2 separate regions of the Homo sapiens genome follow, and region 2 is linked to region 1. Evidence: fine-mapped expression QTL. A gene starts in region 1. The other region holds a variant in brackets. All regions are shown on one strand. Distances are between the middles of the regions.

What was found. PIP is the estimated chance that this variant, and not a neighbour inherited with it, causes the effect.
Region 2: its variant is fine-mapped to the expression of CTSD in whole blood (TOPMed, PIP 0.92).

Annotation. Positions count from the first base shown.
Region 1 is chr11:1,759,534-1,767,859 of GRCh38, forward strand. CTSD (cathepsin D) reads right to left here and starts at 4,394. Exons shown (of 9, transcript NM_001909.5): 1 at 4,259-4,394; 2 at 1,776-1,935; 3 at 1-106. The coding sequence starts at 4,326. PRADX (PRC2 and DDX5 associated lncRNA) reads left to right here and starts at 815. Exons shown (of 2, transcript NR_182291.1): 1 at 815-1,661; 2 at 1,786-2,953. RefSeq lists silencers at 3,964-4,053, 4,304-4,773.
Region 2 is chr11:1,782,100-1,790,425 of GRCh38, forward strand. The region is part of intron 1 of LOC124902610 (a long non-coding RNA gene); the gene reads left to right. Among named protein-coding and RNA genes, the nearest start is that of CTSD, 22 kb to the left of the region's middle. The variant C/A (reference allele first, on the strand shown) is at 4,084.

The sequences.
Region 1 (8,326 bases):
GTTTGCAGTGGATGGAGGGGACCCACAGGTTGGAGGAGCCCGTGTCGAAGACGACTGTGAAGCACTGGGGGGGCGTCCCGATGCCAATCTCCCCGTAGTACTGGGCCTGGCAGGGGACAGGGTCCGTCAGGGATGGGAGAGGGGGCCCCATCTCCCCACTGGGCCTCAGAAGGCCCGGCTGTCCCCAGAGCCAAGGCCCATACTGGAGGGAGGGGCATCACGGGGCCCACAGCTGCCAACAGCCACCCACTCCCACCTGCTCAGCCTGCAGGGAAGATGGGCCAGGTCCCCAGCCCTCGGTCCTAATGCCCACGGGTACTTGGGGTCTCTAGACCCCTGGCTTCTGTCACCTACCCCTGCTCAATACATGGTGAGGCTGAGGACTTCCCCACGGAAAAGACAAGGCCAGAGGTCAAGCCAGGGTGGGGACAGACGTGGCCCTCAGCCTGAGCCCCGGGTGCAGGAAAGCCCGGCCTGGAAGACTCCCCTGGTGGCCCGCAGTCCAAGGTCTGAGAAAGGAAGTGACTTCCTCCCCAGGTTGGGGCCATGTCAAGGTCTGATTCTGGGTGTCTCAGTGCCTGCCCTGCCCTCCAGGGTGAACCCCAGGCTTGGAGGGCTTCCAGGCAGAGGGGTTCAGCTGGTCAAGGGGAGAAGGTAAGCCTTACAATCACTGCCTGCCCAGCAACCCTGCCTTAATGGCCCAGGGCCTCAGTTTCCCCGTGTGTACACAGGGATAGCAGGCGCAGGTGGGGGTGCTGACTCAGGGATCAGGCAAGTACAAGGGGTCCCATGCCGCCGAGCCTCTCAGGAGGCAGAGAGTAAGAGGGTCCTGGAGTTTGGGGTCGCCTGGGCGCCCGCTTCCCCCAGGATTGGAGCCTGGGCCACCGTCAGCCACCAGATTCCTGGCACCAGCCCAGCCCAATGTTTCTCCAACCGCCTGGCTTCACGGAGCAGCAGCAGCTGCTGACTCATGGCCCCACAGAAGTGACCACTGGCAGGGGGACACTCAGCAAATTTCCATGTGTGTGTGTGCATGTGTGCGCATGCGTGCATCTGCTTGCTCGCGCGCTAGGACAATCAGGAACTGGCCAGTCGGGACCAGGCACACGGCGCCTGGTTCCCCCCAGGGCCCCCCTGGCCCAGTCACATGCCTGTGAGTCTTGGGCTTCCTGTCACAGCCAGGACTCGGGCCAAGCAGGACAGAGGGCAAGGCTCCCCCACAGTGGGCCAGAGCCCCGAGGCTGGACAGTAGGCCCTGGCCTCGAACTGACCCCATAGAGCTGGGACCAGGCTGACCAAGCCCCAGCTTGCTAGGTGGCTTCCAGAGTGCTCCACCTTGGATCCTGCTTCCCCCTGAAGGAGTAGTGGGCACAGGAGGGGCTGTTGCGAGAGGAAGAAGATGGGGAGGGGCTGGGGAGGCCACGAGTCACCACAGGCCTCCCAGCAGGACAGCAGTGAAAGGCTCCAGGTCAGCCGGCCACACTCAGGCAGGCCCAAGGACCGCCCCCTCAGGCGAGCTGGCACCAAGGCCCGAGGCCACTCCCAATCACCCTCCCAGGCCCTAGCAGGACCAAGACCCTGCAATGACAGGGGCCAGTGGCAGGAGGTTCCAGAATGGGGAAGAAAGGAGTGTGGCTGAGCCGGGACGCCACCGTGGCCAGGTGAGCCACTCAAACTGCGCTGCTGAGAACAGGAGGTGGGAATGTTCCCCATACTGCCACGGAGCTCTCCTGACAGTGGCTCCGCTTGCAGCAGGGCTAAGACCTCATACTCACGTCCATGTAGTTCTTGAGCACCTCGGGAATGGGCCCCTCGGTCACGGCTGGCACCGCCTGGGAGTACTTTGAGACGGGGCCTTTGGCAATCAGGTCCTCCACAGAGCCCCCAACCTCCGACATGGTCCGGCGGATGGACGTGAACTTGTGCAGCGGGATCCTGTCAACCACGGGTCGGGGCATATCAGGGAGGCCCTCCCGCCTGCCGGCCGACGCTGCCAATGCTGCACATCCACCTGGAGGCCCCTGGGGAATCTCAGAGTCGCCACAGCCAAAACCAAACTCCTGCCTGTCACCTGGAAACTGCTGGCCCAGCTCCCCCAAGTCAGTGAATGGCAACCCATTGCCCCCCGCCAGGTTGCACAGGCCACAGTCCTAAGAAGTGGTCACCCGCCACCCACCTCAGCCCCACACACCCAACCTGGGGGCCAGTGTGCCCAACCCTCCTCTCCTCAGCCATTCTGGAGGCTCCAAAGCCCCCAAGGGTCTCCCGTCCTCCCTCTGCACCTGCGCTGGTCTCTTCCAGGATGGTGGCCAGCATGGCTGCTCAGGGTGCTGGCGGGTACCTGTCACTCCTGCCCAAAGTGCTCTGAGGCAGCCCACTGTACCCAGCCCCCATCACACCTGCTCTCCACCCCCAGACACCTGCACGAAGGTGGCCCCACCTCCAGGCTGGCACTGGCAGCTCTGCCTGGCCTCCTCTGGCCATCAGATGGGCCCTCCACACCACCTCCAGAAGCCCTCCTTGACTACCTGTCCTCCTCCACATGGACCCTGTGGCTGCCCAGTGCCCTCATCCCACATCTGTTTCTGGGCATCCGCACCTCTCCTCACTCCATGCGGCTCCACGAGGTCCAGGACTGCACCTGGGGCCTTAGAGGCTTCTGTGCTGCCCCCCCCACCGCCCTGCCTCCTCCGACAGCTGCACTCAGGGTACCCCTCCAGAGTCCTGTCACCCAGCACACCGCCAGCCAGGGTGCAGGAGGGAGCTCCAGACTGAGATCGGGGTCCTGAGTTCTAAACCCAGGAAGCGAGTAAGAGAGAGAGGGGTCCCTGCTCCTCCCCCAGGGCCACTGGCCTTCCCCTTGGTGTGAACCCACTCCTTGTTCCAAGGAAGCTCCCCTGGGCTTTTAATCACTTAAATAAAACCTCTTCCCTGCCCCAGGGACTTGAGAGTACAAGGTCATAGCTGGCTTTTCCTGGCTTGTCAGGGGCGTGATCCCGGAAGATGAGATTATTGCCTAAGAGCTGGTGGGCTGGAAGAGCTCCAGGTTTTGTCCTGGGGGAGGGACACGCCCTCCAGGGACCAGGAAGCAGGTGTAATAGTATCAGTCGCACAAGAGCTGGAATCGGGTGAGGGCTTGGATTCAGCTACCCTTCCCTCCAAGAAGCCCCAGGATCGTTTCCCCTCTGCTGTGTCTGTCCTCCTTGGAGAGGGGAGGCCTGTGGATAGGCTGGCAAGGTCAAGGCAGGCTCAGGCTTGTGGCTACTCCCCCACAACGACTTTAATTGGGGCTACCCGCCCCCGGGCCATTCCCCACAGCCTTTGGTGAGGCTCAGTCCTACCCAGCTGGCCCAGCCAGCTCCAGCCCCTGCAGCCTTCTGACCTCACCCACCTGCCAAAAGGCAGTGGACCCATCGCAGATCCCAGGTCTCCCACAAAGGCCCAGAGCAAGGGTGGGGCAGGTGCCCAATGGGATGGGTCAGCATACCCCTCCTGGGAATGCGGGCTGCCTTGCAAGGGCTGGGGAGGGGGTCAAGAAAGCAGACTGCAGCATGGCCCTCCTCTGCCCAGCTGGTCAGGCATGGCCGGGCCCCATCCCATCCAGGCCCAATCGGTGGCCTCACCTGGCACAGGGGATCGGCCTGAGGAGCGTGTGGGCCTCACTACAGCACAACCCCAGGCCCGGGGTGGGTGAGCCGACCCACTCCCCATGCCTCCTCCTCTCTCAGGGACATGGGAACTCCTAGGGTCTCGAGGGGTCTCCCAGCCCAGGGCCTGTGATAAGAGCCGCTGGAGCAAACTTTTAAAGCCCCCAGTTCACAGGTGGTAAAGGGGTCCCTAAGGAAATGGACTCGCCCAGACTCGGGGGCTCTGAGGCCTGACCTAGGTCTCCAGCAACAAGGGCGCTCAGTACAGACCCCAATTCCACCTGCCCCGAATGAGCACTACCTCCCCCCGCCCCGCCCCGTCTCCAGGGAGGCTGCGGTCAGTCTGCAGTCCTCAAGGTACAACCCAGGGTGGCATATGGGGGAGAGGCATCTGGCGCCTCTGCCCCGGGTCCCCTGCACCTCCGGAGCCCGGCGCCCCGTAGGCGGGTGGTCCGTGCAGGAGGCCGCGCAGGGCGGCACAGGTGCATTCCAGCGCGGGGGGCGCAAGGGGCTCGTGGGGGCCACAGGGGAGCGCGAAAGTCACCACAGGCCCCGGGACCTCGGCGCCGCGACCCCTGCCCGTCCCTGAGCCCCGGCCCCTGAGGCTTCACCTGACGAGCGCGGAGGCGGGTGCAGCCAGCAGGCAGAGGGCGAGCGGCAGAAGGCTGGAGGGCTGCATGGCGGCGGCGGCCGGGTCGGAGAGGGTCGCCGAGGCCGTGCGCTTATAGCCGGGATGACGCCGCAGTTGGGCCGGATCAGCTGACCCGCGTGTTTGCACCCGGACCGGTCACGTGGGCGCGGCCGGCGTGCGCGGGGCGGGGCGGAGCGGGGCCTGGCCTGGGCGGGGCAACCTCGGCGCACGCGCACAGCGCCCGGGCGGGGGGCGGGGTGGTGGTGCGCCTGCCGCGCCTACAGTTCCCGCCGCTCGCGCCCGCGGGGTCAGCCCGGCCCAGCTTCTGGGGTCTGGAGGATTCCCGTTTCGGCCTGGCCTGGGGTCGTGGGGCGGCCCACCCTGGAGGGCCCCGCGGGGTGACCCCTGTCCCGGCCGCCGCGGCCGTCCCCGCGTCCAGGCCTGCGCGGGGCGCTGCGCCGTGGGCTCCTGCACCTGCTCCTCCCGGCGCCCCCTCGTCCCCCTCCGAGACGCTCCCAGACATCCTCTCTGGAAGCCTCTTGCAAACCAAGGTTAAATTCAAAGTCCCCAGCCCACCGAATGGACCCTCCGCTCCTCTACAGGGCTTCCAGAGAAACCTGGAAAACCAGCTCAGGCCCTGCCGCAAAGGGGGTCGGACCCGCTCCGCCCTCTCCCTCTGGGCGCTGTGCTTAGAGACTCAGGCCTCACCGATGGCTCTAGCCTCCAGATCCCAAATTCCAGCCTCACACTGGCACAGCCTCACGTGGCAGACAGCAGGCCCGAAGGCAGGCAAAGTATTCCACCCTAAAATACATTCCTTTCACATGTTTTGATATGGCACTGCACAGCTGTCTCTTGAGGGGGCGAAATTCGCGTTTTCTAGAGAAGCTCCTTCCCTTAGGAGGTCGGGCACCTTTTGTCCACTCACGTCAACTCTTTTTTTTTTTTTTTTTTTTTTGAGACAGAATCTCGCTCTGTGGCCCAGGCTGGAGTGCAGTGGCATGATCTCGGCTCACTGCAACCTCTACCTCCTGGGTTCAAGCGATTCTCCTGCCTCAGCCTCCTAAGTAGCTGGGATTACAGGCGCGTGCTACCACGCCTGGCTAATATGTATATATACACACACGTATGTATATATATATATACACACACACACATATATAGTGTATATATACACATATATATACGTATATATATACACTATATATGTATATACATATATGTATATGTGTATATATGTGTATATATACATGTATATGTGTATATATGTGTATATATATACATGTATATGTGTATATATATACATGTATATGTGTATATATATACATGTATATGTGTATATATATACATGTATATGTGTATATATATACATGTATATGTGTATATATATATACATGTATATGTGTATATATGTTTTGTATTTTTAGTAGAGATGGTGTTTCACCATGTTGGCCAGGCTGGTCTCGAACTCCTGACCTCAGGTGATCTGCCTGCCTCAGCCTTCCAAAGTGCTGGGATTACAGGCGTGAGTAATCCCACTTTAACTCTTTAGGCAAAACATAACTCTTTCAACCACTTGCCAATCAGGAAATCTTTGAATCCCCTATGACCTGGAAGCTGCCCCTGCCAACCCTGTTTCTAGGCTGAACCAATGTATATCTTACATATGTTGATTTATGGTTTTGGCCTGTAACATCTGTCTCTGTAAAATCCGTAAAACCAGGCCGGGCATGGTGACTGTTGCCTATAATCCCAGCATACTCGGAGGCCAAGGTGGGAGCATTGCTTGAGCTGAAGAGCTTGAGATCAGCCTGGGCAACATGGTGAGACCCTGTCTCTACAGAAAAGACCTGAAAATTTTAAAAAAAAGTATAAAGCCAAGCTGTTACCCAGCCACCTTGCTCACATATTCTCAGGACCTGCTGAGGTGGTTTCACAGGTCATAGTCCTCACATTTGCTCAGAATAAATATCTTCAAATATTTTATAGTGTTTGGCTTTTTTTCAACAACACTCCCTATACCCAGGGTACCCAGATGGACCTCATCCTTACTCTCCAAGTGTCCCCTGCCCAAGCGCCCACTCTCCACCTCCTCAGAGCAGCACCTCACTGGGCCCTGCCCTGGCCACCCTGGGCCCTCCTCCCTTAGCCCAGACTTGCCCATCTCCAATGTGGCACCATCCCTGGAACCCCATCTCCAACGTGGCACCGTCCCTGGAACCCCGTCTTCAACGTGGCACTGTCCCTGGAACCCCATCTCTAACGTGGCACCGTCCCTGGAACCCCGTCTTCAACGTGGCACTGTCCCTGGAGGCCTGTCTCCAACGTGGCACCGTCCCTCTAGGCCCCGACCTCAAAGGTGAGCAGTGTATCCAGGTCAGAAACTGGGTCTCCCGACACTGAGCCTGCAGAGGCCATGGTGACAGTTGCCCCAGGACTTCACCATTCTCGTGTGCCCTGGTCCTGCCTGGCATGGGGGACTGAATTAGGCCTGTTGGAGGGGAGGGCCCGGTCATTCCCCAGATGCTCTGGAGCACACAGCCAGGCGGGAGGTGCGGTCGCTGTAAGTAGGAAAGGGATATTGGGACAAATCATTTAAGGCAGGTCCAAGTCACACAGGAAATGGAGCCAGGGGATGTGCTCAACAGCGACCTCCGCAGGAAGGTCCCTCCAAGAAGGTGGCATCTGAGCTTGGACCCAAATGAAGGATGCTTCCCCATGCTCTCACCCAGGGTGCGTTTTCTCCTCCCAGCTCCCTGCGAGGTAGATGGGCCCAACCCCGCTTTACAGAGGCAGTGAGGTTCTGTGGTTCTCGGCGGGCGGGATTGGAATTCCCACCTTTTCTGTAACCAAATATATCAGGACCTTGGCCCTTGCGGAACCTCCCCGAAGCTGGATCTGCCTGATGGCCACAAATGAGTGGCTGCCCCCTCAGCCCCACCTTCCCGCCCATTTAGAGCCCTTCATCTGAGGGGGTTCTAAGCCTGAACACAGAAGCCCGAGCAGACAGACACCCTTGCCCTCAGAATCTGCCCAGCTGCTGGGGGTCCACACCTTGCCCTCAGAATCCGCCCAGCTGTTGGGGGCCCACGGCCAGCCTGGACCTGGCACCTGGGGTTATCACGTGCTTTCCAGTGGGCTGGGATCTTGGAGATGTCAGCCGACCCTGGGGGACTGGACTCCAGCAAGGGGTGAAAGATGGTCCCAGCTAGTGTCCCCTGAGCCACCCTGCTCGGTCCCCAGGTCCAGTGGTGGACGAAGCATTTGGTGTCCAGGATACTGAGATACGCACCTGTGAGGACGCATGCCCACAGAGCGTGGCCGACACTCCACCCAGAGGTCCCGGTGAGCCGGTGAGGCTGCGAGCCAGTGGGTAGTGCGGATGGCCAGTGGGGCCAGAAGCACAACGTGGCAGCGAGCTGTGGGGTGTGTGGGCCGGTGCTAGCCAGGCTAAGAGCCTTGGACCATCCCCTGAGACAACGGGGCACTGTTGAGCAAGGACCCTCTCGGGGCCCCAAGGGTGAAGAGGCCCCACCCCACCGCAGATACCATCTGTTATTCTGTTTATTACAGAGGGGGCATTCTGCCTGGGCCCGCTCAGCTTCCCAGCTCCTGGAGCAGAGCCCGGCACGTGGTAGGTGCCCAGTAATTATGTGTGGGATGAATGCCTGGGTGTTCAGGGTCCCCGAGGGACTGACCCACCAGGCAGGGTGGGACCCTGCTGGCATATTGGGTGAAGGTCAAGGGAGTGGCTTCTAATCCCCTTGCCTCTGGCTCACCCGGGCAGACCCTCTCAATCTGGGCCTCACCTCTGTCCCTGGAGAGTTGAGGTTGGGCTAACGGTCTCTGGAGCCCTTGCCTGCCCCTGCTAGGAGCTGAGGGTACAGAAGCGACCCCTGGCCTCCTTGTCTGGCTCAGATTCCCCAGACTCCTGCACCTGCCAGGCCGATTCAGGAGACCCTCTTCCCACCAGGGCTGCCTTCAGGGCTCCTGGGCCAGTGGGTGCTGCAGCGTGTCCAGGCCCCGCCTCTGGCAGAGTGCAGGGGAC
Region 2 (8,326 bases), 23 kb after region 1:
AGAAAATCCTGATGCTCACAGAGGAAGTTGCAAAAGGACAGTGCAACACCTCCCAATCTTGCTTTTTTGCTGCCTGTGCAGTTTTGCAAAAGTCACATCCCTGTTGGGGTGACGGGCGGTGTCCCTGCTGTCCCCCTACAGTCGTTGTGGGTCCTCCTCCCCTGTGCCCTGGACACAGCCCTAGTGGACAGAGGGCTCTGGTCCCCGCCCCACACTCCCCCATGGGCAGGATGCCGTTCTAGCTAGCAGCCCCCTCCCCACAGTGGCTCATACTTGGGCCAGGGATGCCCCTCCTCTGTATCCTCATCTGGGAAAACCCCAGTGCCCCAGGGGTGCCAGCCACACACCACTGCCTGCCCTGAAAGAGAAGGCGCTTGCCGCAATGCCCAGCAAAGCAGGATTATCTCCCGACCTCTGTGGGTCCGGCCTGCGGCGAGTGGAGCCAGGCCCCTCATCTCACCAGGGAGCAGGGCAGGAGTCCCCCTTCACCCCATCCTCCTGTCTCTGGACCCCTCAATAGTACCCAGCCTCTGCCCACGGCCCCTCCACGTCTTTCCCTGCCCCTTCCTGCTACCCAATCCTTTGTTCTTTTGCTGGGCTGAAAAGGGTCCCCGAAGATGTCTACATTCTAATCACCGGGACCTACGTGACAAAGGGGCCTCCAGATGTGGTTAAGTCGAGGCACATGGGATGGGAGATTGTTCTGGAATATCCGGACAGGCTCAGGGCAATCACAAGCATCAGGATAGGAGCTGGGGAGGGTCAGAGCCACAGGAGACTAGAAGATGCCACTGCTGGACTTGAAGTCGGAGGAGGGGACCGTGAGTCAGGGAATGCTGGCGGCCTCTGGGAATGGGAGACACAGGGAGAGATGGATTTGCTTTTAGAGGCTCCGGAAGGGAACCGCCCTGCAGGCATCTTAATGTTAGCTCCTTGAAAACCACGTGGGACTTGTGACCTCCCAAACTGCAAGATGATAGATTTACGTTGCTTTAAGCCACTGTGTTTGTGTAATCTGCCACAGCAGTTAATTAGTCAGAGACTAATACAGACCTTGTGCCGGGTGACCAGCTGACCTTTGTAAAACCGAAAGTCCTGCCGTCTGGGCACCTCTCAACCGCAGGGACTGCAGTCACTCCACGTATTCCACTCTTTGTTCCTCTCCTGCCTTAAGCCCCGACTCATGGACCTCCCCAAGTATCCACCCCATCGCCTGGCAGAATGTCGTGTGGAGAGTGCTGAGGATGGGGCATCCGCTCCACCTTTGACAGAGACAGAAACTTGATCCCATTTCACAGCAAGAAGACAGAGGCAGGGCAGGTCCAGCAGCCATGAAGTCACGGAGTCAGGATTTTCACCCTGTGCCTGGCACCCAAGCTGGAGCTCCCACCCATCCCAAGTGACGTGGTGGGCAGGAGTCTCCCCTCCCAGCCCAGGGCCCCCAGCCTGCTCTGGCCCTAGGCCCCCACAGCCCCCATCCCTGGCTGGGCCCTGGTGGTCACTCTTCCTCAGCTCTCCCAGGCCCCTCTGGCTCCTGTTTTTATCCTCCCTAGCTTGGTCACTAAGCAGAGCCCCCAGGTCCAGACTCAGGAGTCCTTGGCCCGGGGCCCAGCCGCACCTGCCCTCCAGGCAGAGGAGGGAACCAAGATGCCCAGCAGGCATCTCCACAGAGGTTCCACCCACTCCCTCACTGGGGGAGGAGATGAGAGTGGCCGTCTCTCCCTTCCCAGCCGCTGGTGAGAGCAGAGCTGGGGCTGATGACTCTGGTGGCTCCCCCACAGCACCCCACACTCAGGCTGCCTGGCACATCCCAGTCTGAGGTGGGCAGCACCGCCAGAGGCAGCCTCAGCGGCCTCGTCCCTGGGCCCAGAGACACAAGCAGCATCCACAAGGGCCTGAGGGTGGCCCTGCGTCCTGTGCTGCAGGCTCTTGCTGGCCCCACCCACGCTCCACCCCAAATGAACCCCAATTCTCCCAGCTGACCCTGGCTGTCTGCCGTGCTCAGGACGCTGTCCCTCCTCCCCACCCACATCCGTTCCTGCCACCTTTGCCGCATCACCATCGGCCGCCCAGGATCAGCAGGGTCCTCCTGGTCCCCAGCTCCGATGGGCCCACCGCAGAGTTATACATGGACTTAGCGATGGACTCAGCTAGCTCTCGGAGGTTCGTTCGGAAAAGCAGCGGGTGAATTTGCTTAGAGCTGCCCGAACAGAGACCACAGACTGCGCAGGTTAAACAACAGACATCGATTTTTTCACATTCTGGAGGCTGGAGTCTGAGATCAAGGTGTGGGCAGGGCTGGCTTCTCCTGGGGCCTCCTTCTCCCTGTGTCCCCACAGGGCCACACCTCTGTGTGCATCTGTGTCCTAATTTCCACTTTTTACAAGGACACCAGGCCTATGGGATTAGGGCCCACCCTGAAGACCTCGTTTTAACTTGTTCACCTCTGTAAAGACCCATCTCCAAATACAGCTGCATTCTGAGGTCCTGGGGATCAGGGCTTCAACACATGAATTTTGGGGGACGTGACTGAACCCCTAACAGGGCCCCAGTACCCTCTGCCTGGCTTTCATGCCCACATCCCGAGGTAGCCAGGCCTTGCAGCAGATTCTCCCTGCACTCACCGGCACCCTGGCAGGCGGACTGGCACCCCCTCTGTGTTGTTTCCGTCTCAGACAGTGATTTAACTCCCTTCTCACCACAAACACCGCACCTTCCCAACCCCGCTTCTCCCAGACCCCTTCTCCTGGCAGGTGCCCACCTGGGCCCACCCATCCTCTCTCCTCTGCAGAGCTGGGGCCCTTACGGTTTGCTCACCATGGTGCAGTCGGCAGAGGTACTCGTTTAAAGGCTTGTCTGATCCCATTGCTCTGCCCCGGGACTCTCTGTGATTTCCAGCGCACTTGGCTACGGGAACAGAGTTCTGGGGCCCAAGGTCCCTTGTGGTCTTGGTCCCCTGCTGACCTTGGTGGCGCCCGCTCACCCCAGGAACTCTTCCCCACGTGGCCTCTGCCCAGCGAGCGCTGACCCTCTGCCCAGCTCGCTGTCTGCGGACGCCTCCTCCCAGTGCACTGACTGCTACTGTCCCACAGATCCGGCCCCAGATGCTGCTCCCAGAGGAGCCTCCCCAGTCCCTCAATGAGGCTGGGTCTCCCCGTAGCCCAAATCAACCTCTGGTGCACTTCTTTTGAACCATCTGACCCCATTTTTACTGTTGCCAGCTTAAGTGGTTAAAACTGTTTTTTACCTTTTTTTTTTTTTTTTTTTTGGAGACAAGGTCTCCCTCTATCGCCCAGAGTGGAGTGCAGTGCTGTGATCATAGTTCACTGCAGCCTTAACCTCCTGAGCTCAAGTGATCCTCCCATCTCAGCCTCCTGAGTAGCTGGGATCACAGACATGCACCACCACGCTTGGCTAATTTTTTAATTTAATTTTTTGTACAGACGGGGTCTCACTATGTTGTCCATGTTGGTCTCAAACTCCTGGTCTCAAGCAGTCCTCCTTCCTCGGCCTCCCAGAGTGCTAAGATTATAGGTGTAAGTCACAGCACTCAGCCTTTTTATCATTTTATTTGAAGTATAATGGGCTACTTAGACCCTGGCGGTTCCGTCTGACTATAACGGGGTTGAAAAGTTTCCGTCGCCTAGTGCCGTCGTAGGCCTCCTAAGGCTGTAGCACAATGAGCTGCCTTCTCTGTGTTTAGATACACAAATGCTTACCATTGTGTTGCCTGCAGGATTCAGCACAGTGCCCAGCCCTGCAGGCCTGCCCCCTAGGAGCAGTAGGCTGTACCGTGCAGCCTGCGTGTGTGGCAGGCCACACCATCTGGGTTTGTGTAAGTGCACTCTGCAATGTTCTCACAACCATGAAATTGCCTTAGGACACGTTCCCCCGTGGTTACCCGGCGAATGACTGGATAACAGATGGACAATCAACTGCATTTGCCTAAAGTGTGCCACTTGACCGATTTTGAGACCTGTGCACACTGTTGAACGCATCTCCGCGGTCGAGATCATGAGCTTCCCTCCACAGCCTCCGCTGTGACACGTTGACCATCCCTCCCTGTTCCCCCCTCTTCCCCAC[C/A]CCCAACCCTGCCGGTTCCTAGAAAACTACTGTTCTGCTTTCTGTAGATGAGTTTCCATTTCTAGAACGTTATATAGATGAAGTCAGACGGCACGTGCTTATTTTTTTTCTGGTTTGTTTCACTCGGCGTAATTATTTTAAGATGTAACCATGTCACTGCATATATCAGTGTGTTCAGCATGATTATTTTGAGATGTATTTGTGTCATGCATGTGTCTATGTGTTCACTTTCTCTCGGCTGCTGTCACAAATTGCCACACAGTGAGTGGCTTAAAACAACACAAATCTATTAACCTTACAATTCTGGAGGCCGGAATTCTGAAGAAGTGGGTCTCCCTAGGCCAAAATCAAGGTGTCAACAGGAATGACTGTGCTTTCTCTGGAGGCTCAGATGGAAAATCCATGTCCCTGATCCTCCAGCTCCCAAGGCTGCCTGCATTCCTTGGCTGGCGGCCCACCTCCATCTTCAAAGCCAGCATTGGCCGGGCTGGTCCTTCCCACATCCCGGCACTCTGACCTCCTCTTCTGCCTCCTTCCATTTTTAAGCACCTTGTGATCACATTGCTTATTCAGATCATCCAGGATAATCTCTCTATTTAAGGTCAGCTGCTTAGCAACCTTAATTCCCTCTGCAACCTTAATTCCCCTTCAGCATAAACCTAATATATTCCCAGCTTCCAGGGATTAGGGCATGAGCATCTTTTGGGGGACCATTGTTCTGCCTATCGCAATCAATACCTCCTTCATTATGATTGCAGAATAGTGTTCCATCACAGGCACAATCTGTTTCTCCATCTAACTGTTCATGGCATTTTGGGAGGATTCCAGTTTTTGGCTATTACAAGTGAAGCTGCTAGGAACACTCACATACAAGTCTGTGTTGACACCTGCTTTTGCTTCTCTTGTGTAAATATCTAGGAGTGGGTTTGCTGGGTTGCATGGAAGATATGTGGGCAATTTTTTTTTTTTTTTTGAGATGGAGTCTCATTCTGTTGCCCAGGCTAGAGTGCAATGGCACGATCTCGGCTCACTGCAACCGACGCCTCCTGGGTTCAAGCGATTCTCCTGCCTCAGCCTCCCAAGTAGCTGGGACTACAGGCGCCCACCACCATGCACGGCTAATTTTTGTATTTTAGTAGAGATGGGGTTTCTCCATGTTGGCCAGGCTGGTCTTGAACTCCTGACCTCACATGATCCGCCTGCCTTGGCCTCCCAAAGTGCTGGGATTACAGGCATGAGCAACCGCACCCAGCCTTTCCTTTTCTTTTTTTTTCCTTTAACAGTGTTTGTTGTGTTTAATAAATCTTTGCTACACTCAAGATCAGTAAGATTTTCACCTATGTTTTCTGTTAGAAGTGTTATAGCTTTATCTCTTCCAATAAGGCCTATCATCCATTTTGAGTTAGTTTTTGTGTATCACGTGAGGTAAGGGTTGGAGTTCATTGTTATGACTATCCAGTTGTTCCAACATCATTTGTTGAAAAGCCTTTTCTTCATTTAATTGCCTTGGCAATTTGGTTGAATTCAGTTGTCCATACGCATGTGGATCTATTTCTGGGCACTCTATTCTGACCCATTTATCTATTTGTGTGTCTTTATACCAGCACTGTACAGCCTTAACTATTATTATTATTATTATTTTTTGAGACAAAGTCTCCCTCTGTCACCCAGGCTGGAGTGCAGTGGCCCCATCTCGGCTCACTACAACCTCCGCCTCCCAGTTTTAAGTGATTCTCCTGCCTCAGCCTCCTGAGTAGCAGGGATTACAGGTGCACGCCACCACACCAGGCTAATTTTTGTATTTTTAGTAGAGACAGGGTTCCACTATGTTGGCCAGGCTTGTCTTGAGCTCCTGACCTCAGGTGATCCACCCGCCTCAGCCTCCCAAAGTGCTGGGATTACAGGCGTGAGCCACCATGCCTGGCCTGATTTTAGTTATTTTAGATATTTTGTATTTTGATACACATTTTAAAATCAGCTTGTCCATGCCTGGTGTGGTGGCTCACACCTGTAATCCCAGCACTTTGGGAGGCCGAGGCAGGCGGATCACAAGGTCAGGAGATTGAGACCATCTTGGCTAACATGGTGAAACCCCGTCTCTACTAAAAATACAAAAAACTTAGCCGGGCATGGTGGCAGGCGCCTGTAGTCCCAGCTACTTGGGAGGCTGAGGCAGGAGACTGGCATGAACCTGGGAGGCAGAGCTTGCAGTGAGCTGAGATCGCACCACTGCACTCCAGCCTGGGCGACAGAGTGAGACTCAGTCTCAAAAAAAAAAAAAAAAAAAAATCAGCTTGCCCATTTCTAAAAAAAAAAAACAAAAAAAAACTGTCTTGAGATTTTGATTTGGATTGGGTTGATTCTACAGATCACTTTGGGAACAACTGACATGTTGACAATATTGATTCTATCCATGAACACTGTATATCTCTCTCCATTTGCTTAGTATTTTACTTTTGCTTAGTGTATTTAGAATGTCAGAGTACAAGTCTTGGACATATTTGTCAAATTTATCCTGAAATATCTATTTTCAATTTTCTTCTAAATGGCCGTTTTAAACATCAATTTTGGGCTAGGCACAGTGGCTCATGCCTGTAATCCCAGCACTTTGGGAGGCTAAGGCAGGCAGAGCACCTGAGGTCAAGAGTTCAAGACCAGCCTGGCCAATATGGTGAAACCCCTCCCTACTAAAAATACAAAAATTAGCTGGGCGTGGTAGTGCACACCCGTAATCCCAGCTACTAAGAAGGCTGAGGCAGGAGAGTTGCTGGAGCCCGGGTGGTGGAGGTCGCAGTGAGCTGAGATTGTACCACTGCACTGCAGCCTGGGTGACATGGCAAGACTCCTTCTCAAAAAAAAAATAAAAAATATAAAATCAACTTCGAATGTTCGTCGCTGTTATATAGAAATACAATTGATATTTGTCCATTGACCTATCCTACAACCCTGCTAAACTAAGTTATCAGTTTTAGTAACTTTCTCATAGATTTTGTAGGTTTTTCTTCAACAATGATCATGTCTTTGGAAAATAAAGACGTTTGTGTTTCCTTTTCAATCTGGATAAATTTTGTTTTCTTTGCACTGGCTAAACCCCAGTGAATGTTGAATGGAAGTCGTGAGAGCAGACATTCTTGTCTTGTTCCCGACCGTAGGAGAAGAACATTCCTTTTTCACCATTCAGGATGATGCTCGCTGTAGGTTTTTCTATAGTTTTATTTTTTAAAATCAGGATGAGGACATTTCCTTTTCTTCTCTGTTTGCTGGGAGTTTTGATCAGGAATGGATACTGGATTTTGTGAAAAGCTTTTTCTGAACCTGTGGAGATGTTCACAGGCATTTTCTTTTTCAGTCTGTTAATATGGTGAATTAAATTCATTGAGGTTTTTTATTTTTTTTATTTTTATTTATTTATATATTTTTTGAGGCAGAGTCTCACTCTGTTGCCCAGGCTGGAGTGCAGTGGCACAGTCTCGGCTCACTGCAAGCTCCACCTCCCGGGTTCACGCCATTCTCCTGCCTCAGCCTCCCGAGTAGCTGGGATCACAGGTGCCCGCCACCATAACCGGCTAATTTTTTGTATTTTTTTGCTTTTAGCAGAGACGGGGTTTCACCGTGTTAGCCAGGATGGTCTCGATCTCCTGACCTCGTGATCCACCCGCCTCGGCCTCCCAAAGTGCTGGGATTACAGGTGTGAGCCACCGCGCCCGGCCCTCGTTGAGTTTTAAAACATCATAAAATAACCTGGCATTCCCAGGATAAATCTCACTTGGTCATGAGTATTATCCTTTTTATAGATTTTGGGGTTTGATTTGCTAAACATATGCCTATTTCCCATCTGTCGATCCTCTCTGGGGGTGGAGGACATCTGCTTGTACCTTTTGCACCGTCTTACACGGACTTTTTTAAGTTACTGAATTTTAAGGGTTCTTCATGTATTTTGGATTCAAGGTCGTTATCAGACATGTGTTTGACCAAAATGTTCTCCCAGTCTGTGCCTTGTGACTCCATTCTCTCAGCAGTGTCTTTTACACCGCAGAAGTTTATAATTTTAATAAGTCCAACTTATCACATCTTTTTTCATGGGCCATATTTTTGGTCCTGTATCTAAAAAGTTCCTCATCAGCTGGGCATGGTGGTGCATGCCTGTGGTCCTAGCTGCTCGGGAGACTGAGGTGGGAGGATCACTTAAGCTCAGGAGGTTGAGGCTACAGTGAGCTACCATCACACCACTGCATTCCTGCCT